Regions from separate parts of the Homo sapiens genome. Here region 2 is linked to region 1. Evidence: fine-mapped expression QTL. A gene starts in region 1. The other region holds a variant in brackets. All regions are shown on one strand. Distances are from middle to middle. Region 1 holds the start of NCAPG2 (non-SMC condensin II complex subunit G2). Region 2 has its middle 37 kb from the start of MIR5707.

What was found.
Region 2: its variant is fine-mapped to the expression of NCAPG2 in lung (TOPMed, PIP 0.92).

Annotation. Positions count from the first base shown.
Region 1 is chr7:158,701,920-158,707,293 of GRCh38, forward strand. It overlaps NCAPG2 (non-SMC condensin II complex subunit G2), which reads right to left and starts at 2,885. Exons shown (of 28, transcript NM_017760.7): 1 at 2,805-2,885; 2 at 1-19. RefSeq lists an enhancer at 1,646-2,224 and silencers at 2,802-2,901, 3,052-3,141, 3,262-3,541.
Region 2 is chr7:158,625,498-158,630,862 of GRCh38, forward strand. No RefSeq gene overlaps it. Among named protein-coding and RNA genes, the nearest start is that of MIR5707, 37 kb to the left of the region's middle. The variant C/T (reference allele first, on the strand shown) is at 2,594.

The DNA of each region.
Region 1 (5,374 bases):
TGGCATTTATTTTGTAACCCTAATGGAAAACACAATCATACTGAAACACTTGCAAATATATCTTTTCCTGTAAGATTTAATTTGATATTAACATCCAAGAACTGCAAGAAAATTCCTCAACCACGTATGGCAGACAGTTTCTAAAAACATTCTGACATAAAACACGCTATAATATCTGAAAAACAATTTACTTATTTCCTTTACTGGGGATGTGAATAACATGATATTAATGATATTTTATCAACAATTGTTAATAAAATTACCAACTAAGGAGGGAGAAATCCAAATAGCCTTAGGAAGCTCACCACCATCTCTCCCTTTTTAGTACCTTAGCAAGATGCTGGCTCGGCAGAGCTGAGTTGATTCAACAAAAGAACAATCTGATCCCAGCTGCAGATTCTGAAGATGCTCCCTTTCTAAAGGCCATTCCTCCATCAAAAAAATCCCACTGTTAGTGTCATCTTGTTATTCAAAGTGAGATGGAAAACAGTGGCCCCGGGGGTCACCTGGGATCTTGTTAGACTATGCATTAGGCATGCTCAACCACAGCACCCTCCTCCCACCCCTTCGGGATAATGAGAGCTCAGGGGACTTTGTATACCCTCCATCCTGCCTGTGTTTTTCCAGGAAATTCTATTTCGCATTCACAATACCTGGTGCTACTGGTGCCCTACTGAAAAAACATCAACCTAAAGATGAGGTAATAGCAAATGATGGAACACATTTGCAGTAGGAGCCCCCTCACTTTAAAAATAAATGAAAACCACCTGCACCATTATAAATAGAGCAATATGGAAAATTATTGCCAATAATTATGGGGACAGAGAGTCATCTTAAACATATAATACTAGATTTTAATGTCCAAATTGAACAAAGCAAAAATAACCTCAGTTTAATGACTCCCGAAATAAGTTAACAGTGAAGTCTGGTCATCTCATTCCTCAACTCAAATGGCTGAACTATGAACTACGGTCATGGACCACATAACATTTCAGTCAACAACAGACCACATGTATGACCGTGGTCCCATAAGATTATAATGCCATATTTTTACTGTGCTTTTTCTATGCTTAGATATGTTTAGCGATGCAAATACTTGCCATTGTATTACAGTTGCCTACAGTATTCAGTACAGTAACATTCTAGGAGCAGTAGGCTACACCATACAGCCTATGTGTGTAGGCTACACCTCTAGGTGTAGGCAAGTCCACTCTGTGATGTTCATGCAATGATGAAATTGCCTAACGACAACGTGTCTCCCTCTTTAAATCAAGCATGACTGGCACATTTTTCACTGACAAAGAAAATGGGGAGGGAAGGGAGAGTGGCCAGTAACAAGCATAATGAATAGTGGCTAGGACAAATTCATGATTTTAGAAAAATAATCCAATAAGGTGCAGCAAACACATGGAATCATACATCTTCGCCCGGCAAGTCTGTGAACACTCTCCACTTTTTCATAGTTCTGGTCACTTTTCTTGTTTGCTCTATTTCCAAGTGTACCTCTTTGGCATGTTAGTCCAACTTACAGTAATACACTTCCTCTAGACTACCAAACTTATTCCTATATTTCCCATTTTCCCTCTTATATTAGTGACTGTAATTTTTTAATGGTTAATTTTTCAATCTATCTCCCAAAGTGGCAATATTCCATGTTTCTTGTACCATATGTGCATAAGACCTCAGCCCTGCAGCCAGAATGCTACTTTCAAGGTAAGGAGTCATCTCACCATCCAGTTATCAGTCCGAAGAGCAGGTTACTCTTCGCACAGGAGGTCTGGTACTAAATCAAGATGAGCATTAAAAAGAAGAAATCCCTGTTACCTTCTCACCACCTGTGACTTCCCACTCCGTCCCCAAACTCCTTCCTCATGGACACAACAAGAGGCACCAAACCAGCAACAAGAGTTCAGGAGACTGATGTCTCTGAGGACAATGCCCACGTCCACAGCTGGGGAGATACTCTCTGAGGGCAGTGCCTACACCCAGGGCTCAGGGGGACTCTCTCTAAGGGCAGTACCGACACCCAGGACTGAGGGGACTCTCTCTGAGGGCAGTTCCCATGCCCAGGACAGAGGGGGTCGCTCTCTGAGGGCAGTGCCCATGCCCAGGACTGAGGGGACGCTCTCTGAGGGCAGTGCCCATGCTCAGGACTGAGGGGGTCGCTCTCTGAGGGTAGTGCCCATGCCCAGGACTGAGGGGACGCTCTCTGAGGGCAGTGCCCATGCCCAGGACTGAGGGGGTCGCTCTCTGAGGGCAGTGCCCATGCTCAGGACTGAGGGGGTCGCTCTCTGAGGGTAGTGCCCATGCCCAGGACTGAGGGGACGCTCTCTGAGGGCAGTGCCCATGCTCAGGACTGAGGGGGTCGCTCTCTGAGGGTAGTGCCCATGCCCAGGACTGAGGGGACACTCTCTGAGGGCAGTTCCCATGCCCAGGACAGAGGAGGTCGCTCTCTGAGGGCAGTGCCCATGCCCAGGACTGAGGGGACACTCTCTGAGGACGGTGCCCATGCTCAGGGCTGGGGGGTCGCTCTCTGAGGGCAGTGCCCGCGCCCGGGGCTGGGATTTTCCTCCGACACGGACAAGAAGGACGGGCGTCGCTGAGCTGGGTAGGGGGGATGGCCCGGGGTCGCCAGTTCCGTCCAGTTCCGTCAGAGGCAGCACTGCCCGCACGCAGGTCGGCCGCCTCCTTAGGGGAGGGGAGGCTGGGACCCCGACCAGCCGAGGAGGGGCTTCCCGCCCGATCCCTGCTACTTCCCAGCCCCTGCTCTGAACCCAATCCCGGCTCGGCACCGCAGCTCTTACCTGGGCTCGGGGACCCGCCGTTTCCCGCGCTCGGACCAGATTCAAACGCACCCGCCGGCGCCCCAGACGGGCCCCGCCCTCCCGGTCGTCATCAGGCGCCGCTCTCGCGAGAGCTGGGGCGCCGCGAGCCTCGGGCCTCGCCCACACGCCCGGCCCGCCCCGCCTCCAGATCATGCCCCGCCCACATGCCCGCCAGTCTTCTTCCTGTCTATGCCCCGCCTCTTAGGGCGCGGCCTCGAGCAGCTAAGCCCAGTGCCCTACCGGGCACTACGGAACGCGCACGCGGGGCGCCACAGCTGGGGAACCCATGCCCGGTCCGCGCGCCGACGTCCACTGCGCGCTCGTGCGCGTCCTGGGGCCTCCGCGGAGGGAGTGCGCGGTCCAGGAGAGGGCGGGGCGCTGCGAGCGGGCGGTGTTGTGGGAAGGAGGAAGGAGAGGAAGAGAGAGAGGGGGAGAGAAAGGAAAGGCTTGGGGCGGGGAGAGGCCACAGGGCCGTGTCTGGATCCCCGGGAGGACCCCACCCCGACCTGGCCGGCCCCCGTGACCGCCCTCCCTGCCGAGGGGGCACCTGTCCGGGTGGTCCGCAGCCTGCACACGGTAGGTGCACCCTGGGCAGGTGCTTCCCCCGCAGGAGCCCCTCCGGCCAGGTGCGGCCCCTAACAGGTGCTTCTCCTGCAGTTGCTCCTCCAGCAGGTGAGGCCCCCGGCAGGTCAGCTGCCCATAGGGTGGAGAGGGAGAGGCCTTAGCGGGGACCCTCGGAGGCACCCGTGTGAAGGAGGAGTAGCAATGTCATTCAATTCTTTGGACTTAAATGCCAAAATCACATACTGATGTATCAATCTCTTTTAATTTGTGTCAGCGAATAACTTGATTGGGCGTTCCCAATTTTTGTTGAAAGCAAATTCTTAGAAAACGGTGCTCTTTACCACCGAGCTCTGCATCCCTTCGTGAGGACTTGGCCTTCCCTGGAGCTATATTCTTTCATGCTTGAGATGTCTAGAGTGGTATCTGTTTTCCTGGCTTAACTCAAGCCAGAGGTCTTGGCGAGATTGAAGTCGTTGCACTGTGGGAGCACAGCACCAACCAATAGGAACATCATGGGAGCCACAAGTGCACTTGTAAATTTCTAGTGACCACATTAGAAAAATGAAGATAAATAGGTGACATTAATTTTTAAATATGTTTTATTTAGCCTAGTATATCAAAAATATTTATGTTACTTGTTGGAATATCGTTTCAACAAGCAATATAAAATTATAGCAGGGAGAAGACTGGTTTACTAGGAAGCTTGCAACAGTGAAGCAAGGCAGGCTGCAGAGGGGAGGGAGAAGACCCACTCAGAGGATGCTGAGTCTGGGACCCTTGTCAACAGGTGGCCGATATCTAACATTGCCTATTTCATCCTGGGGCTCCAGCCACCTCTGACCTCCTCCTCCCTCCATACACAGATCCTTCCCTGCCATTTCTTGAATTTTGGTGCCCTCATCTTCTCACTGCTTTCTTCTTAGCAATTTCCTTCATATCCAAGGTGCAAACTGCCACCTTCAAGCAGTGACCTCTGCATCTGGATTTGCAAGACACGGTTATTTCTGAACTCCAGAATTTTCAACAGCTCACTGCCTACTCCCACGCTGGTGCTGACATGCATCCAAAACAGATATCGACTTCCCCTCCCACCCCTGAATCCTGCCCCTTTCCTTATGCTGGTCCCTCCTCCAATCAGCCATCTGTTCCTGGGGTTTCCACTTCCTGAGTAGGAATAATGTAACAAGTTACGCATGTGAGCTCTGAAGCTGTACCACCTGGGCTAACCTGGTTCTGTGCTCACTAGCTGGTGACCTTTGACAAGCCATGGACGACTGAGCCTCAGTTTCCTCATCTATCAAATGGGACCTACTTAAGTACTGAGCCTCCTCTAGGGGGTTGTTATGAGGCCTAAATGTCTGTATAATGCAGAGCTCAGCCTCCTCTAGGGGGTTGTTATGAGGCCTAAATGTCTATGTAGTGCAGTGCTCAGAGGCACGTGGAAGCAGGGCAGCAGGAGCGCCCAGTGCACCCCCAATGCACCTGCCCATGCAGCCACTAATGTCATAGGATCCTTTGGGTATCGCTTCACCAGCTAGAAACCTCCGTGGCCAGCGGTGCCTCTGCTAGAGTTTTGCTCGAGCCCACTCAGCCCAGCAGGTTGCACTCGGCTTGCACTACCAACCCAGATCCCACGCCTGCCAAGGGTGAGCCAGGTGCAGAGCGGCAAGGGGTATGTGAGCAAGCGAGCATGGGGTCCAACCACTGCGCACACCCAGCCATGCAGCTGCTGTGGTGGAGCAGGCAGCTCTAGGTGCCTGCACAGCTGCCGGCTCCATGCAAGGCTGTGGCTGGACCAGAGGTACCACAAGTGGCTTCCACTGCAGGCATCAGCATCTGGACAAGGGGAACATGGTGGCACCCGAAAGCTCACAGATGCCAGGAGCCACAGAGCCCCAAAGGGGGGTTACACTGTGTCACAGCCCTGGCTCGGGGAGCCCCGAGGTCTGGGCTCCCAGAAGGGCCACAGCTCTTCTGTCCTTCTC
Region 2 (5,365 bases), 76 kb before region 1:
TGGAGACCAGAACAAGGCGAGAGTGCCTGCTCACACCACTTCCAGGCTACATTTTACTGGAGGTTCTCACCGGCACAAAAAGGAAAAGCAATAAAAGCATCCAGACTGGAAAGGAAGATGTAAATGGCATTTATTTTTAGATAACCTGATCGTCTGAGTAGAAAATATGACAGAGCCTATAAATAAACTACCACAAGTCATCAATGAGCTTAGAAAAGTAGAATACAAAGTCAACATACAAAAAGAAACTGCCTTCCTCTATTCCAGTATAAACAATTAGAAGTTGAAAATTTAAAAATACTACCATTTACAACAGCTCTATAAAACACAAAATACGTAGGGATAAATTTAATAAAACATATGGAAGACCTATATCATGAAAATGACAAAATATTGGGAGAAATTAAATGTCTGAAAAACTAGACAATGGTCATGGATCAGACGACTCAACACTGTTGAGTGTCAATTCTCCCTCTGCCCGAAGAGCTTAGCAGCCTAGCAGCCTAGCCTCAAACTGTGTTTCAAACTGTTTTTTCTTTTCCTTTTCCTCTTCCCCTTCCCAGTCTCAAGATAAAACTTTGAGACAAACTGCATATGTGTTACCTTTCATCTCGAAATACAGCCTTGGAATGTGCTGCGAACCTCCACTCCCTTTCATTTTTATTTTTGGAAACAGTCTCGCTCTGTCGCCCAGGCTGGAGTACAGTGGTGCAATCTCCGCTCACTGCAACCACCACCCCCTGGGTTCCAGTGATTCTCCTGCCTCAGACTCCCAAGTAGCTGGGATTACAGGCGTGTGCCACCACGCCTGGCTAATTTTTTGTATTTTTAGTAGAGATGGGGTTTCACCATGTTGGCCAGGCTGGTCTGGAACTCCTGACCTCAGGCAATCCACCCACCTCAGCCTCCCGAAGTGCTGGGATTACAGTCGTGAGCCACCGAACCCGGGCCCTCCACTCTTCTTTCTTTTCCCACTGTATGCTCCCATGCTTTATGCACATGTATTTACCCAGATACTAGTTAAGCACACACCATGCTCTCTTATCTGGCCATTTATTTGCTTAGAAGCTTCAGGGGTCGGGTCCTAAAAGGGACTAGGCAACTCCGGAATTCTCTTTCCAACAAAAGATTATTTCAAGGCCAGAACCCTCTCCTGGCTGAAGAGTGACTACAAGATTGACTGTGATTAATTTATAACCTGGTAGGATGCACAATGGTGCCGGCCCCTTCACCAAATGGGACAATAATTCAAGAAGGGCCACTGAAGCAAGTCACGCCACCTGGCACCTCTTAGTCCCCCTTGCCTCTTCCGCATTCCAAACCCTTTCTGTAAAACCCTGCGTTCCCTCCACAAACTGAAGAGTGGAACTGCTCTTCCCCTTGCCTGCACAAATAATAAAGGAATATCACTCTTTCTCATCATAACTTATTATTTTGCCTTCTTTCCATAAGTGGCCGGACTCTTTTTGCGAGTTAATCCCCAGCTTGATCTGTAAATTTAGTGTAATCACAATCAGAATTGTACTGCATGTTTTCGTCTGTAGAAATTGACAAATTGATTCTACAATGTATATGAAAAGGCAAAGGAGCTAGAAAAGCCAAAACCACATCAAAAAACAGAAAGCCAATTGGGGACTTGCAATTCACAATTTTAAGACACAGGTACGGCTCAAATAAAAAGGACCCTGGGAATTGGCGTAAGGATGGCCATAGCTCAGTGCACAGAAAAGACTCCAGAAAGAGCCCACACAGGTATAGCCAACTGCATCTTGACGAAGATGCAAGGTGATTTCATGGAGGAGGAAAGGGTGCAGGAACAACGGGATAATCATATGGGGAAAAACCAAAAACAACAAACTGAACTTGGACTCCACATCCAAGATTAACTTAAAATGGATTACACACCTAATCATAACAGCTCAAACATACACTTACACAGCAGAGCTTCTCAACATCACACCATTGACCACTGGGCTGGAATGACTCTTTGTTGCAAGGGCTGTCCCGTGCCTCCTACCTGAGGCATTTTGTGGCAACCCAGCCCACCAAGACACCTGTGCCACTGACGGAAAGAGGGGCAAACTCATGCCCAGCTGAGCCCTGCTGGTCTAGATGAAGGGCAGGTCCAGAGATGTGTCATGGAGTTCCTTGATAAAAATATTACCTTCTAATGGTGCAGGGACTACTAGATATCCATATGGCATAAAGAAATAAATAAATCCTTACCTCATACCATACATAAACATTAATTCAAAATGGATCACAGACCTAAACACAAGAGCAGAGCTTTTAGGTTTCGATAAGGAGATAATAAAAGCAGCCACAGACACCAATGTAGAAATAACAGCAAGATTCTCGGCCGGGCGCAGTGGCTCACGCCTGTAATCCCAGCACTTTGGGAGGCCGAGACGGGCGGATCACGAGGTCAGGAGATCGAGACCATCCTGGCTAACACGGTGAAACCCCGTCTCTACTAAAAATACAAAAATTAGCCAGGCATGGTGGCGCGCGCCTGTAGTCCCAGCTACACGGGAGGCTGAGGCAGGAGAATGGCGTGAACCCGGGAGGCGGAGCTTGCAGTGAGTCGAGATTG[C/T]GCCACTGCACTCCAGCCTGGGTGACAGAGCGAAACTCTGTCTCAAAAAAAAAAAAAAAAAAGATTCTCATCAGTTAACTATGCAAGCCAAAATAAAACATGTTATTTCATACAGGACAACAAATAAACATGGTTTTTTACATGTCTTTTTATATAGAACACAAAAAGCACAAACTACAAGAGTATAATTGATAAACAGGACTTCTTCAAAATTAAAATTTCCTATTTGAAAGACACCATTTTAAAAAATTAAAATAGGGCCAGGTGCGATGGCTCACACCTGTAATCCCAGCACAGAGGTCAGGAGTTTGAGACTAGCCTGGCCAACATGGTGAAACCCCATCTCTACTAAAAATACACACACACACAAAATTAGCCAGGCATGGTGACATGCACCTGTAATCCCAGCTATTCGGGAGGCTGAGACAGGAGGACTGCATGAACCCAGGAGGCAGAGGTTGCAGTGAGCCAAGATCGCACCATTGCACTCCAGCCTGGGTGACAGAGCGAGACTCGGTCTCAAAAATAAAATATAAAATAAAATAAAATAAAAATAGGAGCCACATACTGTAATACCCAACCCTAATAAAAGACTTGTATCCAGAACATCTAAAGAAGGCTTAAAACGCAACAAGACAAACAATGCAATAATACAACAAAAACAGATGAGAGACTTGAGCTGGTATTTCACCAACACAGATACATAAGTGAAGTGTGCAGCATCAGTCCTCGGGCAACACAAATTAAAGACACCATGAGTTACCACTACACAACCAACAGAATGAAGATAAAAACACTGAAAATAACCATTGTAAGGGAGGATGATAGGAATATAAAATGTTACAACAACTATGGAAAACAGTTTGTGAGATTTGTTTAAAAGTTAAATGTAGACTTAACATATTAACCAGAACTTCCACTCCAAGAAACTGACCCAGTGAAACAAGCCCACACAGACTTGTATACATGAAGGTTCCTAGCAACTTTATCTGCAATAGCCAAAGGACCATCAATAAACAGCCAAAGGGGAATCAATAGGTGAGTGGGTAAATAGCCAAACAACCATCAACAGGTGAATGGATAAACAGCCAAATGACCCTCAATAGGTGAATGGCTAAGCCACCACAGTGTGGATGAACCTCAAGACTGTGGCAGTGTGGGGCCAGGTCCCAGCAGCCGTTGTAACAAACGACGCTCAATAGGTGAATGGCTAAGCCACCACAATGTGGATGAATCTCAAGACTGGACAGTGTGGGGCCAGGTCCCAGCAGCCGTTGTAACAAATAACCCTCAATAGGTGAATGGCTAAGCCACCACAGTGTGGATGAACCTCAAGACTGTGACAGTGTGGGGCCGGGTCCCAGCAGCCGTTGTAACAAACTTTAGATGTTTCTGATGCATATTAAAGCCTGAAAACCACTGATCTAGAAAATCAGAATAATTTAAATTACAATTATTACTGTCTTTGGCCACCCAACAGCTATTTATTTTTTTGTTCTGGGATCTCTCCCCTTGAGTCTTGGTGAGTGGTGAAGAATGTCTCCTGATGCAGGGAATATTTAAATGTTTAAAGTGGTGAGTACTTGCCTTCCCGGCCATGCGGCCAGGATTCTGCCAGTCTTTGGCTGAGGAGTGAGTGCCACAGCAGGGGTAGGGCAGCTCCCAACCTCTCCCTACCCCTCTAACTGGGTGCAGAAGTAACATTGGTGTTGGAACATTGCAGGTGAATTCTGGGAGCAGAAGTGCTAATTAAAATGTCAAGTGCCCGGTGGCAATCACAGGGATTCATCCTCAGACTAGCTTTGAGTTATGGCTTTCAACTGTCAAGACTGAGTTCTCCCAAAGACACTGGGGGCTTAAACAATGTCGGCTCAGGAATGTAGCTCAAAACTGTAGATCCTCACAGTCCAACATGGCAGTGAGAGCTCCATCCATCACAACCCCATTCCAGGCAGAATGTAAGAAAGGTAAAGATACACAGATAACTTGTAAGGTGCCCATGACAACTTCACTATTATCTTACTGGAAGCACCTGGACACATGCCCACATGTAGGTGCAAGCAATGTTGGTGAATGTGGTCTTTATTCAGGAGGGGCACGTACCCAGAGACAAAATCAGAGATAGTATTTCTGTGGAAAAAGAGGAGAATAAATAACAGGGGAGAGACCAGCAATCTCTCCCTCACATACTCAAGTCGCCAGTCTTAGATCTGCACTAACCCTTCCAAATAAACGACTCTATCTGATAGAACTATATTTCCGTTATCAATGTCACTCACTAATTCAGAATACGGTTTAGTCAGCCAGGATGTCTAGAAAGTCATATTTTCAAAATTATCTGAATTAAGCTGTAATATTATTCCACTCCCCACCTTCCATTTCTCAGATCCCTTGGCAAAACCTTACCCTGAATGCTCATAACTACAGTAAGTAGTCCACTTCTTGTACCGTCTCAGAGAAATACAGGCACAGAAACACTGGAATTTCTTTACTTTTTTGCTCAGGGGCTGAGGACAGAACAAGCACAAAATTTAAGCTGCACTAATTTCCAACCAACTATGAGGTGGTCCACAAGGGCCCACAGGATCAACCGTGACACAGAATCTTTGACTAAGAGGGCCAGGAGCATGGGGCCATGAAACAACTGGCATCCACCAGGTGGGCGAGAGGTCAGGGCAGCCTAGGAGGCTGTCAGCACCACTGCTACCAGAACAGCTCTCAGAAAGAAAAGACCAGAGTAACAGTGTTTGCCTTTAGGCTGAGCTACTTGGT